Homo sapiens: one gene and its partners. Changing the gene in region 1 together with any one later gene gives a genetic interaction. Each region holds a gene or a part of one and is shown on either strand. Other genes may lie near its edges.

Evidence for each region.
Region 2: changes in SMAD4 (region 1) and MTOR together harm fitness more than expected from each alone (negative genetic interaction), as found in Homo sapiens cells (one large-scale study listed by BioGRID).
Region 3: changes in SMAD4 (region 1) and CDK9 together harm fitness more than expected from each alone (negative genetic interaction), as found in Homo sapiens cells (one large-scale study listed by BioGRID).

Annotation. Positions count from the first base shown.
Region 1 is NC_000018.10:51,054,208-51,057,928, reverse strand, and holds part of SMAD4 (mothers against decapentaplegic homolog 4), read right to left. Parts: intron 3,149-3,721; coding exon 2,936-3,148; intron 1-2,935. UniProt on the Homo sapiens protein: In muscle physiology, plays a central role in the balance between atrophy and hypertrophy. When recruited by MSTN, promotes atrophy response via phosphorylated SMAD2/4.
Region 2 is NC_000001.11:11,126,543-11,130,263, reverse strand, and holds part of MTOR (serine/threonine-protein kinase mTOR), read left to right. Parts: intron 1-425; coding exon 426-526; intron 527-1,312; coding exon 1,313-1,409; intron 1,410-1,711; coding exon 1,712-1,810; intron 1,811-2,137; coding exon 2,138-2,260; intron 2,261-2,457; coding exon 2,458-2,640; intron 2,641-3,119; coding exon 3,120-3,254; intron 3,255-3,467; coding exon 3,468-3,642; intron 3,643-3,721. UniProt on the Homo sapiens protein: Serine/threonine protein kinase which is a central regulator of cellular metabolism, growth and survival in response to hormones, growth factors, nutrients, energy and stress signals.
Region 3 is NC_000009.12:127,784,874-127,788,833, forward strand, and holds the start of CDK9 (cyclin-dependent kinase 9), read left to right. Parts: upstream 1-1,160; 5' UTR 1,161-1,275; coding exon 1,276-1,367; intron 1,368-1,827; coding exon 1,828-1,909; intron 1,910-2,644; coding exon 2,645-2,735; intron 2,736-3,073; coding exon 3,074-3,240; intron 3,241-3,340; coding exon 3,341-3,512; intron 3,513-3,670; coding exon 3,671-3,819; intron 3,820-3,960. UniProt on the Homo sapiens protein: Protein kinase involved in the regulation of transcription.

The DNA of each region.
Region 1 (3,721 bases):
ATTATTCCATTTTAGGTAATGTCTAACTAATTGTAGTGGCTTATTTCTTCACAAACATATTTCAAATGCCAGCAAAACACCACTGTACGTCTGGCCTATCATATTAACTTCTTCAGAGGTATGTCAGTTCATCCTGGCCACTCCATCCACCTCTCTCTCTGGACCTTTCTGATTAGGACCCCAAAAATCCAGGCTCAAGAAAATGTTGAAAACTGAAAAATTAATCACTATCAGCACTGATACTAGTAATGGCAGAATGCTAGGGTTTGACAGAGAAAAGCAGAGCAGAAAATTATTTTAAATAGGATGTGATAGTGAAGATGAGGAAGTTAAAAAGATCTAGCTCTGCTGTCCAATCAATATACCATTTACTGGTTAAAAACAAACAAAAAAACTATCAGTCTACTTTCAAATTTTTTCAAGAGCTTTTATAAACCAAGAATCATTTCTTTTCAAGAACACCATCATATTCCCAGATGTACAAGAAATTAATTGCCCTCTCTGTATGTAATATACCAAGAGAATCAAGCTTCTCTTGGCTTGTATTCTATTCAAAAACCATCCTATGATATTGCTTACTGTCCTACATTTTTAAGGCTTTTTTTTTAAAGTGGAAATTTGGTTTCTTAAAGAGCATTAATTAACTCGACTGTTAATCCTATTTGGAAAGCACTAAAGTTATAATTATTTATAACTGGCATCACCTCATTCTTTTCTAAATGGGAGTATAATCAGATGGAAGAGAGTAACATGTCACCATTGCTCAAAGTATCAAAGAAAAGGAATATTTTTCTTTTCTTTACATATCACATTTCCTTAAAGCTAAGAATTACAAAACCAAAAGCTAAAGAGAATATTTCAATACTCCCCAAATTATTTATCTGTAAAAATGACATTTTAGCAACCTCCCTTCCTACTCATCCCCCAGATTCTGCAAGTTATCTTTAAAGGTTAATTATGGTTTTGTTCATATTTTTAACAATTCTACAGGCAATACTCTTAGCTAACTTACAAAAATTGTCATTAACTACACAGGATAAATTATTTTAATTTACAGGTATTTAAAAGGAAATTCTTAAAATATTCAGGTGTCAAAAGAACATAAATTGTAAAGTGACTCACTGTAGTTATCCATACTGAATACTTCCCTTATACAATTCTAAGTATGTAAAATAAAGTTAAACAATACGACTAAATCAGCTCACGTAAAATAGCCTTTCAAATCTTCTATTTTAGTTCAACTTCTTTTCATCAATATACTTTTTGAGACCTAAGGGAACCCTCTTTTTTTTTTTTTTTTTTTTTTTTGGAGATGGAGTCTCGCTGTGTCGCCCAGGCTGGAGTGCAGTGACTCGCTCTCTGCTCACTGCAAGCTCCGCCTCCCGGGTTCACGCCATTTCTCCTGCCTCAGCCCCCGGAGCAGCTGGGACTACAGGCGCATGCCACCACATAAGGGAACATTTTGACACAAGTTCTAAAACTTACAGTATTTACGGTATTCGATTATTAAAATCTACCCAATAAATACCAGGATAAAATTAGCTGCATTTCATTTCTATCACTTTTTCTAATCTTTGAATAGGATTCAACCTCAGGAAACAACACAGTCAAAATGAAGTCACTTTAGTAAGCATTGACAAAGGCACAGAAATTCAATCTCCAGATAATATAAACAGAAGTAGGTAGCTGTGCTCTAGCACTAATCTACGTTCAAGTGGCTATAATGTACCTTCTTTTATTTTCTATCACTACCCACTGTTTGTCAACCATATTCCTAATTTGGTAAATAAAAAGTAGACAGATAATAGAAGCACCAAGTGATTAAGGAACTGGGTTCTCAAGTGCTTAACCTATATGACCCATTTAGAATATGCTGCCTATAGTGAGACTGTCATCTCTTAGATAGCAAACCAAAAACATGTTGCTTTGAAGTGGTGTAATGAATTAAAGGGGAAATTCTGGTATACTTCACTTGAAAACTCACAATTACAGAAATCAGTCCCCCATTTATTCCAAAGATCAAAATTTCTATGTTGAATCTAATCTGATAGTAAAGCAAATACAATAATGGTACTTTCGGTAGCAACTAACACAGTATTAGCCCAGAGCTGTCAAAAATCTATTCTGATGTGGGTTTACATAAATTCCTTTAGCAACTGCATGCAACTAACACCATACACATGCCAAGACAATGCTCTATGATTAATTGAAAAAAAAAAAATGAAAAAAAAGCTACTTCATTTGCCAAGCAGCAAACTATCAAACCTTTGGTTACTGTGAAAATAAGTAACAGAACCAGGTCATATGATCATGCCCCCAAAAACCTGAACCTAGCAGCCCCTCTCCCTCCTATGACATGGCAGAAAAGAAGGATCTTTCTGAAACACTTTTTTTTTTTAATTACACATATATTTTAAAAAGAGATATAGAAGTTAGCTTATATCAAAATTGACTTAATTAATGTCTATCTTGAGCAATATATAACAAATTTGTCAAGATCCCTTTGCACAGTGAGAAAATCAGACAACTACTATAAGGTAATATTGTCCCAGAAAAACCAAAATAAGAACACCGCATTAAAAGAAAGGTTGCAATTCCATTAACACAGACCTTCATAAACATCTTGGATCAAAACTACTTGTTAATTATTTAAATATTTCTCCAAAATATATCTGGGAGCTTAAGAGGCTACTTACTGCTACATGTAATAGTAAAGTATAAATCAGATCATTAATTTAAATCAATATTATAATCAAAGCCATTACTTAAATTCCAAGTGATTGTGCATACCTGTTTAATACCTGTTTACCTATGAAAGATACTACAGTTACTTTTAATGTTTACTTACTTGGAGTTTCCCCCCAAGTGACTACACATAAATAAGCAATGATTAGGAAAACTCAACTTGCTGACTACATCTGATTCTAGAACTCACTTGTGGAAGCCACAGGAATGTTGGGAAAGTTGGCAGTGCTGGTAGCATTAGACTCAGATGGGGCTAACAGAGCTGGGGTGCTGTATGTCTCTGTCGATGCACGATTACTTGGTGGATGCTGGATGGTTTGAATTGAATGTCCTTCAGTGGACAACGATGGCTGTCCCTCAAAGTCATGCACATATTCATCCTTCACCATCATACTTGATGGAGCTATATAGAAAATTAAACATATTTTAAATTTTTATAAGCTTCTATTCCCAGAAAAAAAAATCTTATTAGCAAGTAATATAATAACACCTAAAATCAATTACAGTGTAAATTACTAACCTTAATTCAGAATTTTTTCATATTATTTTAAAAGCATACTACTTTACCAGCAAAAGTCATTTATTCAGCGGTAACAGCATGAGATATATTTTATCAATCAATCTGACTCTCAAATTTGAAGCTAGTCTATGTTTCAACAGCCTCCAGCAACAATCCTAAAAAGGTACTCCTCAGTTTCTTGATAAACCTAGAAGAATAATCACCTAAATACATAAGGCAGGCAAAAACCGAATGGCTGGAAAATGTGTCCAGCTGAGAAAAACAATTATTCGGTCTAAATAGAGACTGAGTATTTAACTATATCTTTTTGTTAATTTCACACTGTGGAGATATGAGTGGGATCTGATAGATATCCAATCCCAGGATCTAGAATTATTGTTAAGCAACATATTCTTTAAAAATGAAGTGTACTGAATGTAATGTCCCCTATAGGTTTAGAACCAAACGGAAAAATTA
Region 2 (3,721 bases), on another chromosome or scaffold:
GCACCTGTGTGTGGGTGGCTGTACACAGCTGCGGGTCCACTCTGAGGATGGGGCTTGGGAGGTCCATCCTCTGCCTTTTTCTCTCCACTTCCACTTCTTCCCCTTCCCCTTGGGCTGTCAGTTCAGAATGCGCCAGGGCCGCTGGCAGGCCCAGAGATCCGGGTGTTCAGAGCCTCAGCTCCACCTCCTCCCTCCATCCTGTTCAGGAAGCCACTGTCAGCCCAAGATAATAACAGTTATGATACAGTTGCCATTTATTGAGTCTTTGCTATGTGCCAGGTAATGATTAAAGATTTTTCATGCATTAACCGATTTAATTGTTATAACCACCCTTTGAAGTAGGTACAGTTAGTATGCTCTTATGCCCATTTTACAGATGAGAAAGCAGAGGCAAGAGTGTCGCTAACACGTGTGTGTTCCAACAGGATCTGTCCAAAACCCTCCTGATGTACACGGTGCCTGCCGTCCAGGGCTTCTTCCGTTCCATCTCCTTGTCACGAGGCAACAACCTCCAGGATACACTCAGGTATCAGAGAAGGGAAGGATGCAACTCTGGTAGGCCATGTTAATGGCAAGACCTAGAAGTCACACGTAAAAGTCCTCTTTCCCTTCCTGACCCTGATCAGGACACCCAAGATCGATGTATGTGCCTTTTTTCTGCACTGCATTTAAGGAGTAACAGCTGACTGGGCCCCACCTGTGTGGGTGAAACCTACAGAGAGTGAGGAGGAGAAGTGGAGTGAGAACTCTCCATGTGTGGTTTATTATGGAGGGATTATTAACCCATCTGTTAATCACAATATTTCTTTTTTTCTGACCACCCTGTTGCCTATTGAAGTCACAGTATTTCTAAAATCCCTCAGCAACTTGGAGAGGTCTAAACAAATGACTCAAATCAGTTAACCCAGAGGGTAAAGGTGACAAGGTCCACATCCTCCTTCATTTGAGGATCTCCAGCCAGCTAAGAGCCAGGTGTCCCTGTTGCCTCTGCCGTACAGCGACTCTTACATGTGCAGACTTGTGGCTTTCTAAAGGTTATCCTGGCTCGTCTGTTTGATGTTTGCATACATGCCATGGTGACCCCTCGGTGACCTGGGATGAAATGCTCATTTGCTCAGGGTGACTCTTACGGTGTTCAGTCAAGAGCACTGCCACCCATCACAGACACCTGCTCCCATGGGAGGCCAAACACATTTGAGAGTTACTGGTTGGAGTCCCTGCCAGCTCTCTTCTCAGGAGCCTTAGAGATGAAAAACAGGCAGGCAAAAACTGGGAAACTAAATTTTCTGTGACTTTCTCATTTCTTTTTCAGAGTTCTCACCTTATGGTTTGATTATGGTCACTGGCCAGATGTCAATGAGGCCTTAGTGGAGGGGGTGAAAGCCATCCAGATTGATACCTGGCTACAGGTGAGGATACTTGGTTACAGGTGAAGGTGGCTCCAAGTCTCTCTTCTGTGTGTCTCCTCTTACAAGCATGCTGTGTTCAGTGTCACAAGGCAGTGTGTGTTAATACAGTGCTAAGGAAGTAGGGCTCGGTCCCAGTGTCAAGTGTCCATATTTTCTTTATTTTCTTTTAGAAACTAAAGGGAAGGGAATGAACCATTTCAGAGCATCAACCGAAACAAGTTAAAAGAATTGATCTTTGCCTAGAAGAATAACTAGTTGTTTCAAGTCTCATATGCTACATACTGTGTCTTTTTGAATACCAGGTTATACCTCAGCTCATTGCAAGAATTGATACGCCCAGACCCTTGGTGGGACGTCTCATTCACCAGCTTCTCACAGACATTGGTCGGTACCACCCCCAGGTATGTGGAGACTCTGGGCAGTTTCTCATCTAACCACTGGTTTGGTGGTCAGCCTTTCCAAAAGCTGCCCTGGCGACACAAGCGCAGGAACTGGGAGCCATGTGTTCCATCCTGGCCCAGGAGGGTCTGTCCAGCCAGCCGTCCCAGAGGGCCCGGGAGCCTTGCTAAAAAGAAAGCGTTCCCTCGAAGACTGAGCCCCTTCCTGGTAGTCTCAAGCAGATGTTAATGTCACACTCACCACTTGTTTTGTTATTCTCCTTAAAATTCATACCAGCTCTTCCCCAACCCACATTTCCTTTATAGATGTTTCTTCTGTTTTTCCCTCAGGCCCTCATCTACCCACTGACAGTGGCTTCTAAGTCTACCACGACAGCCCGGCACAATGCAGCCAACAAGATTCTGAAGAACATGTGTGAGCACAGCAACACCCTGGTCCAGCAGGCCATGATGGTGGGTCGGAGCCACTGTGGGGCTTCATAGACCCTGGTCCCTTAGCTGGTGGGCGCAAGTGGGATTGTTTTTCTTCCTCGCATTGGTGCTGTGCACTTCCTCTGACTGCTGGAAATAGTACCTCCTGTGTCTCCAAAACAGACCTTTCTGAGGTTAGCTGATTCTTGATGCTTCTCTCCTTCTTCTCTTGGCTTCAGGTGAGCGAGGAGCTGATCCGAGTGGCCATCCTCTGGCATGAGATGTGGCATGAAGGCCTGGAAGAGGCATCTCGTTTGTACTTTGGGGAAAGGAACGTGAAAGGCATGTTTGAGGTGCTGGAGCCCTTGCATGCTATGATGGAACGGGGCCCCCAGACTCTGAAGGAAACATCCTTTAATCAGGTATGGGGTAAAAAACACGAAAGGACATAACCCTGTAGAAATATTCTGCCACTAAAAAAAAATGAAATGAGAAAAGTTTTTATAGAATGAAAGGACGTGACCCAAGGCCTTTGTCAGATTTCTTTTCCTCTGGCCTTTCCACTGACTTTAATAAAACGAGCTCTGATGGAGGTCACAGAGCATAAAACATCAGAAATTAGTTACAGGGACCCTTCTGAATTTTAACTGGAAAAGCCCAAGATTTCTCAAGAGGTCATCTCGTCTCTCCTCTCACCCTTCCTTCCCTATAAGCCATGCTGCTGGTTTGGAAGCTCCAGGGTTGGAGGCCTGCACCTATGCTCTTGCTTTCTCCAGCCCCCTGCCAGTGTTTTCAGGCCACAGCGGGCTCCTGAGGAATATCTGCAGTCAGCCTGGGGATTTTGCCTCCTGGGTTGGTTGAGACTTTGATAACTTGAAAACGTGCCTGCTTTCTCTCTCAGGCCTATGGTCGAGATTTAATGGAGGCCCAAGAGTGGTGCAGGAAGTACATGAAATCAGGGAATGTCAAGGACCTCACCCAAGCCTGGGACCTCTATTATCATGTGTTCCGACGAATCTCAAAGCAGCTGCCTCAGGTAGGATCTTCAGGCTCCTGGCAGGGTTAACTGTCATTATAGTCCTTTCTGTTTTACTGTCTATGAATGTTCTAACACTCATTCCAAAGCATCTGGTTTTACTTCTGCTTTGGGACAAGTAATTGTTATTAGCAATCCACTGAAAAATACTTAAATTGCGTTTAAATTCTTCCCTGGAGGCAGAACACTAAATCCTTTGGTAATTATTTACAGCTCACATCCTTAGAGCTGCAATATGTTTCCCCAAAACTTCTGATGTGCCGGGACCTTGAATTGGCTGTGCCAGGAACATATGACCCCAACCAGCCAATCATTCGCATTCAGTCCATAGCACCGTCTTTGCAAGTCATCACATCCAAGCAGAGGCCCCGGAAATTGACACTTATGGGTAAGGACCATTGTGCACTTCTGTCACCCACTTCTCCCTCCTACACTGGCTGAGACCCCTTCCCTCTTCTGAAATTACT
Region 3 (3,960 bases), on another chromosome or scaffold:
TGCAAAATGGGTTAGTGATCCTGACTATGGGGCTGTTGATTCAGGATTCGGCGGGAACGCCCAGCACTTCCTGAGTACACAAGAGTGCTGAGAAAATGGTAGCTGTTTTTTGCGATTACTGACTCGGGGCCCGACCAGCTCTGGCACGACTCAGCGGAGGTGGGAGTCCTGCGGGTCCCATCCCTGCCTCCCGGAGAGCCAGACCCCAGCGATAGAAGGCCCGGGCGTTGCTTGCTCGTCGCCGCTAGTGCCGCCGCGCCCCCTGGCGGCCGTCGGTTGCCATGTCAACGGAGGGTGGCGGGGACCGGGGGAGGCGGAGGCGGGGGCCGTTCTCTCCTCCCAGGGCCGGAGGACGCTCCCTCCGCGCCTCCCGCCTTCGCCTCTGTGGGGGCACTCCGAGCCGGGGAGGAAGGGGCTTTCCGCTGCAGCCGACATGTGGGGGTAAACTGAGGCACGCGGCAGGGCGCCCGCAGCCAGGTGCCGAGCGCGGGGCCCCACCTCCGAAGGCGGAGGAGGGGCCGCGGGCGGTGACGCGCCGAGGGCGGCCGGCGGACAGCGAGCGGGCGGGCGGTGGCGGCGGCGGCAGGTGCGGCCGCGGAGGGTGGGAGGGAGGAGGGCGGGGGCGGGCGGAGGAGGAGGGGAGGGCGAGGCCGGGCACCTCCCCCTTTATAACGCGCCCCCTCCTGGGCTCTCGGGCCGTCTCCTAGTCGGCTCTTCCCGTCTCGCCCCCTCGCCCGGCCGCCCCGGGCCCGGGTCCGGCCAGGGAGCTCCCAGGCCGCGGCTCGGGGGCTGACCCCCCGCCCGCCGCCCCGCGCAGCCCGGCGGAGGCGGCGCCGTCGGAGGAGGAGGAGCAGGGCACTGCGGCTGGCCCCGGATCGGGCGCCAGAGCGGCAGCAGCTTCGGCAGCAGCGGCGGCCCGGGCCCATGCAGCGGGACGCGCCACCCCGAGCCCCAGCTCCGGCGCCCCGGCTCCCCGCGCCCCCGATCGGGGCCGCCGCTAGTAGTGGCGGCGGCGGAGGCGGGGGCAGCGGCGGCGGCGGCGGAGGCGCCTCTGCAGCTCCGGCTCCCCCTGGCCTCTCGGGAACTACAAGTCCCAGGGGGCCTGGCGGTGGGCGGCGGGCGGAAGAGGCGGGGTCGGCGCCGCGAGGCCGGAAGTGGCCGTGGAGGCGGAAGTGGCGCGGCCGCGGAGGGGCCTGGAGTGCGGCGGCGGCGGGACCCGGAGCAGGAGCGGCGGCAGCAGCGACTGGGGGCGGCGGCGGCGCGTTGGAGGCGGCCATGGCAAAGCAGTACGACTCGGTGGAGTGCCCTTTTTGTGATGAAGTTTCCAAATACGAGAAGCTCGCCAAGATCGGCCAAGGCACCTTCGGGTAAGGCTGGGCCCCTCGGGGCCGGGAGCCCTGGGCCTGCACCCCTAGGGCCGACGTCGGGATGCCCGGGCCCCCCCCGAGTTGGTAGAGAAGTCGTCTGTCCCCGGGCTTGCCTGCTGGTCTCTAGGCCGCGCCGCACCCCGCCCCGGCCTGACGGAGCCGGCTGGTGGGGAGGAGCCTGAGGCCCGTGGTGGGGGCGGGGAGGGGCTGCAGAGAGGCGCCCGTGAGGGGAGCGGGATCTCTCCAAGGGACGCCCAAGTGAGGAGAAGGGACTGAGGGAAGGAAGCAGAGGCTCCGAACGAGACAGGCTGCCGGGTGGCGGGGTAGCCGCGTGCCCTGGGTACCTAGCCCAGCCCCGCCCGGGAATCTCTTTGCTGCTGCCCCTCCTCCTGTAGTGGGGGAGGGGCGGGCCCTGCGGAAATGGCCTGATGAGTTCTCGGGTCTCCCTTTCCGCCTGCAGGGAGGTGTTCAAGGCCAGGCACCGCAAGACCGGCCAGAAGGTGGCTCTGAAGAAGGTGCTGATGGAAAACGAGAAGGAGGGGGTGAGTACGGATCGGGCGTGCGGGCCGGCCGGCTAACTGCCCGGGACCCCGGGTCGGTTTTCCACCCTGCTGCTTCTGGGAGTCTCAGGTTGAGATTTAATTTTTTTGTAGTAGTTCAGAAATTTCCAGGGAATGTGGCTTCCACCCTAAAACTAAATGTTTCATTCTTAGGCAGTTATGGGTGAGGCCAGGAGGGGGAGTTGATGCATGCATCGTGTGCACTTTATTTCACGAAGTTAGGAAGCCTTTAAACACCTTTTTTTAGTGTTAAATTTCGCTTAATGTAAAAGAAAGATTATATATGCATGCTTTTTGAAAGGTGTCTGATACTCAATTATTTAATGTATTTAAAAGGAGCGGTCCCTTCTCCACCCCATCTTAGCTCTAGTACAACTTCCCATAAACCTTCTTTTGCGTAATGTGCATTAGCAAGGACATTTTTAAATCATCATGTTTGTTGCCAACGAAACAGCCATAGAGCTGAAATTTGAAGACTGAAACCGCCGAGCGTTTAGTGGCTAATAGCAAAGTATTGCTGTTTCAGTTTGTTGTCTCAAACCATCATCTTGAAGTGTGCATGCTACTAATATCCATTTTATAGACAAGGCTTCTGAGACAGCTGGTTTCAGAGCCCATGATCTTGCTCTGTCTCCCAACTTGGCTGTCAGTACAGACCCCAGGGCTGGGCTCTGTACTGCGCTCACTCTTGACCACTTTCCCCTCTTTCTCACCCAGTTCCCCATTACAGCCTTGCGGGAGATCAAGATCCTTCAGCTTCTAAAACACGAGAATGTGGTCAACTTGATTGAGATTTGTCGAACCAAAGGTAAGTTATTTGGTTCTTACGAGAAGATGACACTTGTAGCCTAAGGTTTTGTTTGTAAACTTGGAACTAGGCACACCTAAACTGCCTCTTCTTAACTCAGATGGACCCATGGTGACTGCTTTTTCTGGTCCTCTTTCATCGTAGCTGGTGCTTCCTCGGGGCCTGCCCTGGCCCAGAAGAGGCACTCAGAAAATATTTGACCGGTGAAGGAAGGAACAGACAGATGCTCTGGAGGGCATGGGTGCCCGTGGGTTGGAGCAGGAAGAAAGAAGCTGGTTGTGGGAAAGTGTGTTGGGTGTGGTTTTCTTGACTTTTTCTTCTTTCTATTCCTGCCTCAGCTTCCCCCTATAACCGCTGCAAGGGTAGTATATACCTGGTGTTCGACTTCTGCGAGCATGACCTTGCTGGGCTGTTGAGCAATGTTTTGGTCAAGTTCACGCTGTCTGAGATCAAGAGGGTGATGCAGATGCTGCTTAACGGCCTCTACTACATCCACAGAAACAAGGTGGGGGCCAGAGCTGGGAGGAGGACCCAGGCTTGGGCTGGTCTTGGCTCCCACTCCCGGGTGGATGTCACTAAAGGACCCACTCTTGCCCTTCCTGCAGATCCTGCATAGGGACATGAAGGCTGCTAATGTGCTTATCACTCGTGATGGGGTCCTGAAGCTGGCAGACTTTGGGCTGGCCCGGGCCTTCAGCCTGGCCAAGAACAGCCAGCCCAACCGCTACACCAACCGTGTGGTGACACTCTGGTACCGGCCCCCGGAGCTGTTGCTCGGTGAGGACTCCCGAGCGGGCCAAGGGGGGTGAGGGCCAGGCATCTACCTGGCCCCTTCCCCCCAACTGCCAGGGCTTCTTGAGCTGCCGGCCCTGGGGCATTGAGCCTCAGGAGGCCCTCGGGCTCAAGGGGCCCTCCTGGTGCGCTCTTCTTCCCAGGGGAGCGGGACTACGGCCCCCCCATTGACCTGTGGGGTGCTGGGTGCATCATGGCAGAGATGTGGACCCGCAGCCCCATCATGCAGGGCAACACGGAGCAGCACCAACTCGCCCTCATCAGTCAGCTCTGCGGCTCCATCACCCCTGAGGTACGGGGCCCCGGTCCCCACGGGGTGCAGAGATCGAGGTCCCCCGGCAGAGGAGGAGTGGGGAGTAGAATGGAAGGAGCGCTCCTCTCTGGAAGGGAGGCTGGTTTGGTGACAGGGCCTGTCTTGGGGTGGGGAGTGTGT